2 separate regions of the Homo sapiens genome follow, and region 1 is linked to region 2. Evidence: fine-mapped expression QTL. A gene starts in region 2. The other region holds a variant in brackets. All regions are shown on one strand. Distances are between the middles of the regions.

The links. PIP is the estimated chance that this variant, and not a neighbour inherited with it, causes the effect.
Region 1: its variant is the best candidate, but not a certain one, in a credible set for the expression of ZSCAN20 in skeletal muscle (GTEx, PIP 0.57).

Annotation. Positions count from the first base shown.
Region 1 is chr1:33,497,302-33,502,674 of GRCh38, reverse strand. It overlaps ZSCAN20 (zinc finger and SCAN domain containing 20), which reads right to left. Exons shown (of 8, transcript NM_001377376.1): 8 at 1,032-5,373. Among named protein-coding and RNA genes, the nearest start is that of ZSCAN20, 27 kb to the right of the region's middle. The variant ACTGGGAC/C (reference allele first, on the strand shown) is at 2,271.
Region 2 is chr1:33,469,884-33,475,256 of GRCh38, reverse strand. ZSCAN20 (zinc finger and SCAN domain containing 20) reads right to left here and starts at 2,612. Exons shown (of 8, transcript NM_001377376.1): 1 at 2,566-2,612. RefSeq lists a silencer at 4,355-4,649.

The DNA of each region.
Region 1 (5,373 bases), 27 kb before region 2:
AATCATGGCGGAAGGGGAAGCAAACACGTCCTTCTTCACATAGTGGCAGGAGAAAGAAGTGCAGAGCAAAGTGGGGAAAAATCACTTATAAAACCATCAGATCTCATGAGAACTCACTCACTATCACAAGATCAGCATAGGGGTAACTGCCCCCATGATTCAGGTACCTCCCACCAGGTCCCTTCCACAACACATGGAGATTATGGGAACTACAATTCAAGATGAGATTTGGGTGCAGACACAGCCAAACCATATCAAGGGCCTAAAAGGCAAAGTTGCCTATATCTCATTCAATAAGGACAAAAGAGTGAGCGTGTATTAGGAAACTTCAGCCTTGAGCTACAGTCTTTTGAATGTCCTCAGTAGGACAATGGGTGGAGGAAGGCCAGAAAAGAATATAAAGACGCTCCAGCTCTCCCCTCTTTCTCAAGTACGAAGTGCGATCAGTTCTGTTCCTGAACCAGGAAGCAAATGAGAGGAATCAGGTAAGTTTCAGCCCCCTGGGAACTCTTTCCTATGTTTTCATCCATAATTATCCTTGTGTTATTTGGATTTCAGACACCTCTGGTTTCCTAGCACAGGGATCCTGAGGGACATATCAAAGTAGATGCATAGGGACCAGCAGACTGAGATGCCACTCCTCCCTCCAGGGGGCCCCATGGAACGCAGGGCCCTCACTGGCCCTGGGGACTGGGTGACGTCAGGGGTGAGCCTCTCGTGATTGGCTCCCTCACCCTGCGTAAGATCAAAGGGACAAAAGGACAGCCCCGACACCCGGAGCCACTGTGGCTCCGGCCAGTTGCACCGGCCACTGAGGCCATGGCTCCTGGGGTTGTGGACATGCCTGAAGAGCCACCCATGTCTGAAGGACCACAGGGAACAATGAAAAGAAGACACCTGCCCAGCACAAGGGGCTTGAGACCTTGGCCCCAATCTCCCTGACAACCTGTGTCTCGATGACTTCCCTTCCTTTTCTCCCCCATGCTTTTGGTGTAACCAGGAAGAAGCCAGAAGAATCGAAAACACATTCCTTTTTTGGCAGTTTAATATAATTTATTAACTTATCAGGCCATTCCATCCCAAAATATGATTTGACCAGCTTTAAGAGATGTACATAACAGCACAAAAAAAAAAAAAATAACAGAAAATGGGGAAGTGAAAGCAAAGCCAAATAAAATGAAGCCAGGGATTGGTCCACAAATTGCAAAACAAAAGGGCCTGTTCAGGTTTTAGAATTGGACATTAAATCCCTGAGGCTCCTGATGGACAAAATTTAATCCATTTTAATTTCACAGTCCCTAAGAGGGAATTAAAATCAATTACAAATGTCTCATTTCCATAAATTAGTTGGTCGAGAAAGGTCCCTGGAGATGACACCTGTGCTTCTCCAGGACACACCAACCGGGTTTAGCGTGAGCTCCTGCCCCTACTACTGATGCTGGCGCTCCAGCCTAGCTGGCCTTACCTCTCCATCTATTTCTGGGAAACTTCAGGAACAGGGTTGGGTTGGCGACCTCATACGTGGTCATGAACAAGCCCTTTCCTCTCAAGTGCTGTCCACAGAGGGATTCTCTCCTGCCTTGCCCCCTGGGTGAAGTCTGCAGTGGAGGGTTTCAAAGTGTCTCACCACCACTTCCTGCTGGTCCCCAGTGCCTATAAATATGCGGAAGCTTCTCTGTGGTCCACGAATCCCCCCAAAGCACTGAAGCCAAGTGTGTTCTATGTGGAAGGAGAAGACTCCTTTCTCCTTTGTGCCACATTTGTCACCTGCCACCAAGTTAGGGCTCCCTGAGCCCCAGTGACTCGAGATTCTAGTAGTCACAACTCTGCCAGCCTGGGCCTGTGGCTCCTCTCCTGCTTGGGCTCAGATACATCTGTCATGCTGCTCCAGGACCAGCTTAGAGACTGATTCTTGTTTTCCTGATCCCCCTTCCCGTGGCCCTCGCCCTCTAGGGGGCACAATTTTTATGGGATATTTTTCTACAATGAAAATGTAAAAAAAAAAAAAAAAGTGACTTTAGAAATAAGTATCATGTAATAGCAGGCATGATCAGAAGCATCTTTACACACAAAAAGAATCACCAACAGCGCCCTCATTAGAAAATCAATGTCTATGTGACTCCCTAGTCGACTATAGCATGTTTAGGTAAAATTATCTAATTGTATTCTTCTTTTTACTCTTCTAATGCTCTTGACTTAACCAAGTGGCTCTTAAAACAAAGAAGCTCTCAGCTTTGAGAAGTGGGGGAACCAAACACACACTGAAAAGA[ACTGGGAC/C]CTCTCAAACTCTCTGTCTCTTCCTCCAAGCAGCATAAAATGGGGTTACTGGGGTGCAGGCTCCTGTAGGGTTCCTAACAGAGACTAGGTGAGAGATGCGGCACACGGAGGTGAGGAGAAAGGTCACCCACTCAGCTGCAGCATGGGGTGGGGGAAGCAACAATAAGGTAAGGAAGGAACCTGCCTTTGCCCCCCGAAAACATGCATTTATTTGGAGGTAAGTGCAGGCTTGCTGAAAGTCAGAGGGAGGGCAAAATGATGCTAAAGACATGCTAGCAGTAATAGTGATGCTGGGAGTGTGAAGAAACAGCCAGGAGCTGTGGGGGAAAAGGATCCAGTGTCTACCATCCCAGGCCTCCAGGCCCATTTCAACTCCCTCCTCTCCTGTAAAGCCTTCCCTGCACTCCCACTGCATGGAACACTAACCCCTTGTAGCAGATTGGGGCAGGGGCTTGAGATTGGTGTTTGCTATTAACAGGTGGGGGAGCTGAGCAATGCCCAAATGGAGGATGGGATCAAAACTGAGGTTAAGGGGAGCTTTGGGAGGCTGAGGTGGGAGGATCGCTTGAGGCCAGGAGTTCAAGACCAGCCTGGGCAACACAAGACCCCCATCTCCCCCCCAAAAAAAATGGGGTAAGGGAATATTTTGAATGATTAATTTTGACTTTAGATATTGACTTCATTCAGAAAGAGACCTCTCAGGCAGCTGGGTAACTCCAGCCCAACTGGAAATGCTCTTAGAAGGGAGAAAGTATTGGCAGAACTGAGTCCAAGATGAGTCCAATGGGCAGGTCTCTCCAGGCACGTGCAGGGGAGGCTTGGATGGGAGTCACTGAGTGTGTACATCAATGCACGTGCTGAATGGGCAGGCCAAGAGCCCCATGATGGGTGATGGTAGACACCGGGGCTTTGAGATGCCCAGGAGTCACCCAAGCACAGCTGGTTGGCAGGCAGCTGGGATCCTAAGAGGAGAGGCCACAGCAGGACACAGATCTGGAAGTCATTAGCATCTACACAGAAGAAAAGAGAGAAAGAAAGGAAAAGAAAAAAAGAAGAGAAAGGGAAACAGAGTGAATGAAGAAGCAAGCCTAGGACAGAACTCTGGAGTACAAAGACCCAGAACAGCCTGGGTGAGGCAAGTTCACCTGCAACACCCACACCCACTCCAGACATCACTGCCTTCATTACTTCAAAACTGCACCCCTGTCCCCAAAGGGTGTTACTCCCCTACAGAAAGTGACTCAATTCTTTTCTGCAGCCCGAAAGCAGAGAGCTATCCCCACTGGGGGCCCCAGAACAAGATGAGGCAGGACGGACTACCCAGAGCGCCTGACTACATTATTTAGCATGGAGGGACCCTAGCTGCTTTACTCGGCTTCTGGGAGGAGGCTACAGTGGACAATAAGGCCAAGGCAGCCATGACCATGAGTTCAGCTGCTGAGGTCAAGGCCTTAGAAAAAACCGAGTATCTGAAAAAGTCTTGGCCCCTCCTTTCCCTGCCCCTACCTTTGGGTCTGCTGCCTCTGGGGGTCTGAGGAATGGGAGGCCTAAGGTCCTTTAGGTACCTTTTTGTCCCTTCAGAGGAGCCAATGCCCTTCTTGAGGTGGAGGGTGAAGAAATCAAGGGGAGGCAGCCATCTGGGGAGACGATCCTGCCTTTAGCAGCTCACATGATGTAACACCCTCCCAGGGCAGCATTTGCTGGTTTGGTTTTCCATAACCAGGGTCTGACCTGTGGCCAGGAAGGCTGAGAAACTGTCCACCCATTCTGCAGAGTGAATCTACTTCCCAAGAGCAGAATCACGCTAGCAAAGCTCAGGGTGTGTAAAACCAGATGTCAGTTTATCTGAGCAGCACAGACCTACTGGAGGGCGCCTGGGTGCCCAGCAAGCTCTTGGGTAGACAGCAAGCCTGGAACACTGAAGCCCCCTGAAAGAGTGCTTCTTCCAAAGGAAGTCAGGTAGACAAGGAGGAAGGGACCACCTGGGCCATTTTCTCACCTGGCCCACACTGGCCTTGCTTTCATGACTGAACCTCTATTAAGATTCATGAGACAAGAATGGCAGATAATAAACATCAAAACTGTTCACTAAAGATATGAGACACTAACACACTACCAAACCCAGGGGAAAGGGTGACCAAGTGGAGAGAGGACTACCACCTCACATCCACACAGAGCTCAGCTTGACTTCCACAGTGAGGGCTCCAGAAAACTCAGGGCTACATGAAGAATTCAGGGGTCAGTAACAAAGAAGACAGGGTCCAGAACATGATGGTAGTGGGTGGGAGTGGGGAATGGTCTAGATCTCCTTTGAGGGCCATCTTCCTCTCCATTCAGCACTATCAAGTAGCTCTGTCCTAGGCCCAATATTTGAAACTGAAATTCTTCCTTTCTCATTAGTTTAACTACTTCGCATACACAGATCTCTAGTCCTAGCCTCTCCCCTAGCTGCTAGCCGACATCCAAATGCATAGCATCACCATGATTTCCCTTAAGCACCTCAAGTTCTAGACATACCAAACTAAACTTCTCATCTTCTGCCCTCCTGCTCTATCAGCCTCTCCTCCTTGTGCTCCCAATTCTGAATGAGGACATGCTCTACCCAGTCACCAAAGGCATTCTAGCTTTCCTCTGATGTCCTCCCCTCTGCCTCTGAGACCTTTCCCATTCATTCCCTCCTCCTCAGTGTCACCACTGCTCTAGTTCAGACCCTAGCCTTTAGCTGAAATACCACAACAGTGTCCCAAAAGGCCATCCTAATTGCAGCATGTCCAAGTTCCATTCAGCTGTCAGATTTCAACCATGCACATCTGAACATTGCCCCGGGCCTGGTGTTGACACTCCATTCACATGTGAGGTCCTCAGTGACCTTGCTCCAGCACTCCTCTAATATCAGCTCCCTGTTCCCAACCTCCCATCATACAACCCCACCCTGAATCCATGCTATTCCACACAACAGTGCCTTTCCCTGGAATTCCCTCCCTCTCCCTCACCTCAGGATCCTTCCTCTCAGCTCACATTACTAGACAATATCACTGTATTACTGCAGTTACTGACATCTGCTGACTTCTATCCAGGGTTCATCCCATGACCCCT
Region 2 (5,373 bases):
TTATGAAGATTCACTTAAGGTTACACAACTAGCAAGTGGTAGAGTTAGGGTCTAAGCCGAGATCCCTTTTCTCCAATCATTTTTCTTAACCATGTCTTATAGCCTCCTCTATGTGTGCTAGTCATCCAAACTCTTAAGATGACAGTACGGGAGAATGGAAAGAACATTAAGGCAGGAGTGAGCAGACTGGGGTTCTAGTTCCACTCCTGCCACTAATCAGCTGTGTTACTTTGGACAAGTTATGTAGCCCCTGTGGCTGCCTAGCTAGGCTGCAGCTTACAGCCTGATCTTACTCAGCAGTTGCCCTAGGTTCCCCAATTAGTATGATGGGGTAGAGCAAGGGAGAAGGGAGACTAGAGTCAGTGGCTACAAGTTTAAATGGGTATAAGGACCTAGCAATGTAAATGAGTCAATGACTGAAATGAACTGGGTGGGCACTACAGCCAACTATAGAGTGCCAGGGGAACATATGCCCAGAATATTCCTAAGCCTGCTGATTTTTCCAAAAGAAACTAGCACTCTGGATTTTTAAATGTTGGTAACCAACTCAAAATTTTTTCACACACTATGAGATTAAATAAAGCATGATGGTGGACTTCATTCAGCATGGGCTGTCGCTTTGCCACTTAGATTCAGCTAAGTGATCTCAAAGCTCTCTTCCAATATCCAGAAAGACCTAGAAAGAGTACAGAGCCTCCCAGGTCATGAGGGATAAGTGCTGACTGCCATCAAAATCAAGATGTCTTTACAAACACAGGGAAGCTGAGGGGCATCTTGACTCCTAGGGCAGTAAGTATGAACGTGGTCATGAGGAGCCCACTCAGTGAAAAGGGAAGAGAAGATGCTCTCCAGTTCCACAGGAAAGGCCAAGACTGGTCTGTGACCTCCAAAGAGAAAAAACTGGGAACTCTTAAAGGCTGTCAGGCCCATTTGGCTGACAGTCCAAGCTATGGCTTAAAGCAGTCTGACCTGACCTCACACATAAGGGCTTAAGCCAGGGAGAGCAAATAGGTTTCATTTAAAGCAGAAACTTCAATCAACTGGAAGTGGCTGCCTAGAGTAGTGTGCTGAGGGCTCTGAGTACAGTGTGAATATGTGCTGAGAACCAACCAATTAGCCATGACTGCCAGGGACACAGGAAGGGGCACTGGCAGCACACATTCCATGTATTTGTCACCCCTGGCTTAAACTCCCATTGGCAATGAATCAGCTTCAGCTTCCAGCAGATAGCCTTGCCAGGCAGAGGAAGACTAAAGCTCCTGCCCTGGAAATCCACTGGCAATAGAAGTCTTCAAGGCTGGTATAGCAAAGCTTACCCTGCATGGTCTTCATTCACACATACATACATCAAGTATTTACTGCTTTACATCAAGTGTTTACTGCTCTAGACTGGGCAATGGGGAAACAGAGGTGATTGAGACACTGTTCCTGTCCTGGAGATGTTCACAGTCTAATGGAAGAGACACACACTTCACAGATAATTATGATCAAATGTGGTAATAGGAGAAGTTATGGGAGCTGAGGGTTGGGGGTGACTTAATTTGCTTAAGGGAATTGAGCAAAGTAAGAGTTGAAATTTTTTTAAGTTAAAGAAGTTCTCTTGGCAAAGAAGGTGAAGGGCAAGGAGAGAATATTCTAAGCTGAGAGAACAGCATATATAATGATGGAAAACCAAATGGCCTACCCAGGAAACGAGGAAAACCTTGACAGCCCTGGAGTGTGAGGTGCATGAAGATTAGGCTGCAAAAGGAGTTTATGAAGGACAAGGTGTTTGGACTTTACAGGTGCTGGGTGCCAATGAAAGTTTTCAAGCAGAAGGCATAATCAGATTTGTAGGTGAAACAGATCACACTAGGTGCAATGTGTGTGTTCATGCTGGGAAACTGAAAAGGCTTCTGCGAAAACCCTACAAGAAAGAGGCCGACTGAAAAGATATTAAAGAAATTAAAGATCGGAAGATCCTTGGACGTGGAAGAATGCAAGAGGAATCAGTGGGTAAGTAGGTAGGTAGGTAGGTAAATGGGATGATCGTGCCACTGACTTCCATAAGACATAAGGAAAGAAGTGCAGGTTTGGGGCAGAACACAATAGCCAGTCCCATCCACTGGGTTCCAGAGGTAACAATCATTAGGGAGGTAACAAATTAGATATGCTTGTTCTAGATGGGAAGGTAGAGATTGAAACACTATTTTTAAGGTCGGGCTTCAAGCTCAGGCCCTCTTCACTTCTTGCCAGGGCCCCAGACCCTCTATCCTTTCCTCTGTGGTCTCCAGACCTTTCTATGACTCTCCCACCTCCAAAACCTCCCTCAACCCCCTCACCTTCAGACCCTTCTAAGGCCCTCCTCATTCCCAGGGCCCTCTATCGCCTCCTCATCCCCGACCCCTGTATGACCCTTCCCATCTCCGGCCTCTACATCCTTTGACCGTCCCTCACCCTCCACCCCCACATATAAGCTTCTTTCTCCCCTCTCACCTTCCCCAGCCCCCTGTGTCACCACCACCTCCTAAGTCTCCAGCCCAGAGCCTGCGTCTCAGCTGCCCCCGCCCCGCCACCCGGACTCACCCACCGAGACACCCACTTCACAACAGGGCGGAAGTGCTCCCGGGCTCGTGCGGGGAATGCTGGGACGCGGAGTCCGAGCGGCGCCACCCTGGGAATGGAACGTCTGAGACCACAATTCCCAGAAGGAACCGCGCGAGCGCCGGGGGCGGCCCCCTCCGTTTGCTGCCTTTCAGACGTCTTCAGCCAATAGATATGTCATCTTCTAACGGACCCTGGCACTGGAACAAATCGGAACGGGCGCGACACATGGGGGCGGGACCTGTTGCGATCCTGGCCTTTTCCATAGGCTTCCGGATAACAGCACCGCCCAATGGGAGGGCACTCGAGCAGAAGGGGGCCCAGTTCTACTGAGGGGTCGAAGTGAGAGCCTCAGACCCTGAAAGATCAAAGCAGACACAATAAGAAATAAGAAGAGAGAATGACTAGAGGTGACCAGCCCGATAGGCAGGAGAGAACTGGACAGTTGTAGCTTTAATTTCCAGCTTACAGCTAAGCTGTGTGACTTTGGAAGAATTCTGAACCTCGTTCTCTTCAACCATAAAATGAGGGTAGTAATGGCATCCATGTCACAGAGTTTTGTGAACTTTCAATGAGATAATACACCTAAAACGATTAGCTCAGGGCCTGGCTCCTAATAATGCACAGCGATTGTTAGCTATTATTATGTAAATCAGTTAGTACAGAGCTTGGCACTTCCTAGGTGTTGGAAGAATGTTAATCATTATTACAAAATAATCCTCATATAAATGCGGGTGCTCTGTACCACTGTGAATACTTTGGGGCATGAACAATCTAATGTGGTGTTGAGAATGGGGGCTTTGTAGTCAGACATGGATCCAAATCCCAACTCAACTACTTCGCAGCTGTGTGGCCTTGAACAAATTACTGCCATCTATTTTGTCTTTGGAATTTTCATCTATAAAATGCAAGTAATGTAAGAGAACTTACATCACAGGGTGTTATGAAGGTTAAATGAGACTATTTAGGTAAAAGTCTCTGAAGTCAAGCTGCTTGTGTCTGAAAGTTCTTACTTTCAAATGAAGGATGCAGGTCATACCACCCGCGTTGTGAAACCTTGGGCAAATTACTTAGCTTCTTTATGCCTGCATTTTCCCAGCTGTAAAATGGGAATGATAATACTTGCCTCTTCCTGAGACAGTTGTTGAGAGGAATAAATGGGAGAAGGTATGTAAAGAGCGTGACACATGTCTGACACACAGAAAGTGTTTAATAATCATTAGCTAGTCCAGGCACGGAGGCTCATGCCTGTAATCCCAGCCCTCTGGGAGGCTGAGACGGAAGGATCGCTTTAGTCCAGGAGTTTGAGACCAGCCTGGGCAGCGAAGTGAGACCTCGTCTCTATTTTAAAAAATAGAAAATACAATAATATACATAATCATTAGCTATTATTATTATTACCAATGGTTATGCGGCTTAGGGAAAATTGACAATACCTAGCATCTGGTAAGAGCTCAATGCATGTTGGCTAGTGTTAAAATAGGAGAATTCTTAGCTTTAACGACCCAGTTTAAATTCCTTCTCTGTGAAACATGTTCCAACTTATTTGTAGTAATAACTCATGTGATTTTACTCAGTAAACATAATAACAACCCGTAAATACTCCTTGGTGTTGAAGTCTCACAGTAGCCCTATGAGATTGGTATTGTTTGCTCCACTTTACAAAGAGGGAATGAGACTTAGAGAAACGAAGTGACCTACTCAAGATCACAGAGCCAATAAGAACCAGGGCTGCGATTTGTCACCCCCTAGGCATGTGACTCCAAAGGTCCTACACTGCATGAGGAAGAGACCATATGTGGAAGTAGGAGGGTTTGAGATGGGGAGGGACAGTGCAACAGTGTGGGGTGCCAAGGGAGCCGGAAACATTTGAGAGAGTGTCAGGATCTGAAGCTGGAGAGGCAGCTTTGCAGGGTCAGGTAAGGACGTGTCCACTTCAGCATCATCTGCCCTAAGAGGAAGAAGGGAGGCGAGTGTGCAGAGAGAGGAGAGGACATCATTAGGACACAAGAGGGCGCGCCTCGCCCTCAATACAGCCTCGAATTATTCTATGGTTTCCCTTAGCCTTTGTCTAATTAAAGCCTGGCATTCTACAGAAGAGAAAAAACTAACGAAGTCCTCAAGAGGCCAACTGCCCTTTAGTGCCGTGTAGAAATAAGCAACAGAGCCTGAACCTGTTCCAGGTTCTCTCTGGTTCAGCACCCATCAGGATTTGGTTTGCAAGCGTTCTGTCTGCATTTGTCTACCAGGACTCTCTCTGATTTGGGCAGACACTAGGCTCTAAGGATGCAGAGATGAAGCAAACCTGGTCTCTGACCCCAGGGCCTGATCTCTAAACTTTCCCAATAGAGCGCTCCCATAAGTGAAGCCTTTTTGAGTTTTTGAGTTGAGCACACACTCCCAACATATGTGTATTTATTTACTTATAAATGATGTGCCTGTAATAGCTAACTTTCCTTGAACATTTGCAATGCATTATTAGGTCCTTCTCTCAGTGCTTTATATGTATTAACTCATTTAATACATCCAAAACCCTTTGAGGGAGAGTCTAACACTATCCCATATTACAGAAAAGGAAACTATGGTATAGAGAGGTTAAATAACATGCTAACGGCACGTGGCTAAAAAAGCAGGCAGTCTAGCTTCAGAATAAGGTAAGATTTTTAAAAAATAGAAATAGAAGTTATAACAGTTTCTTTGCAACCATAGTGTGATAATCTTGTGCACTCAGCTTTGGAGACCACTATTTCTGTGGCTTTCAGGCCTGTGATCAGTCCTTTGAGAAAGGGA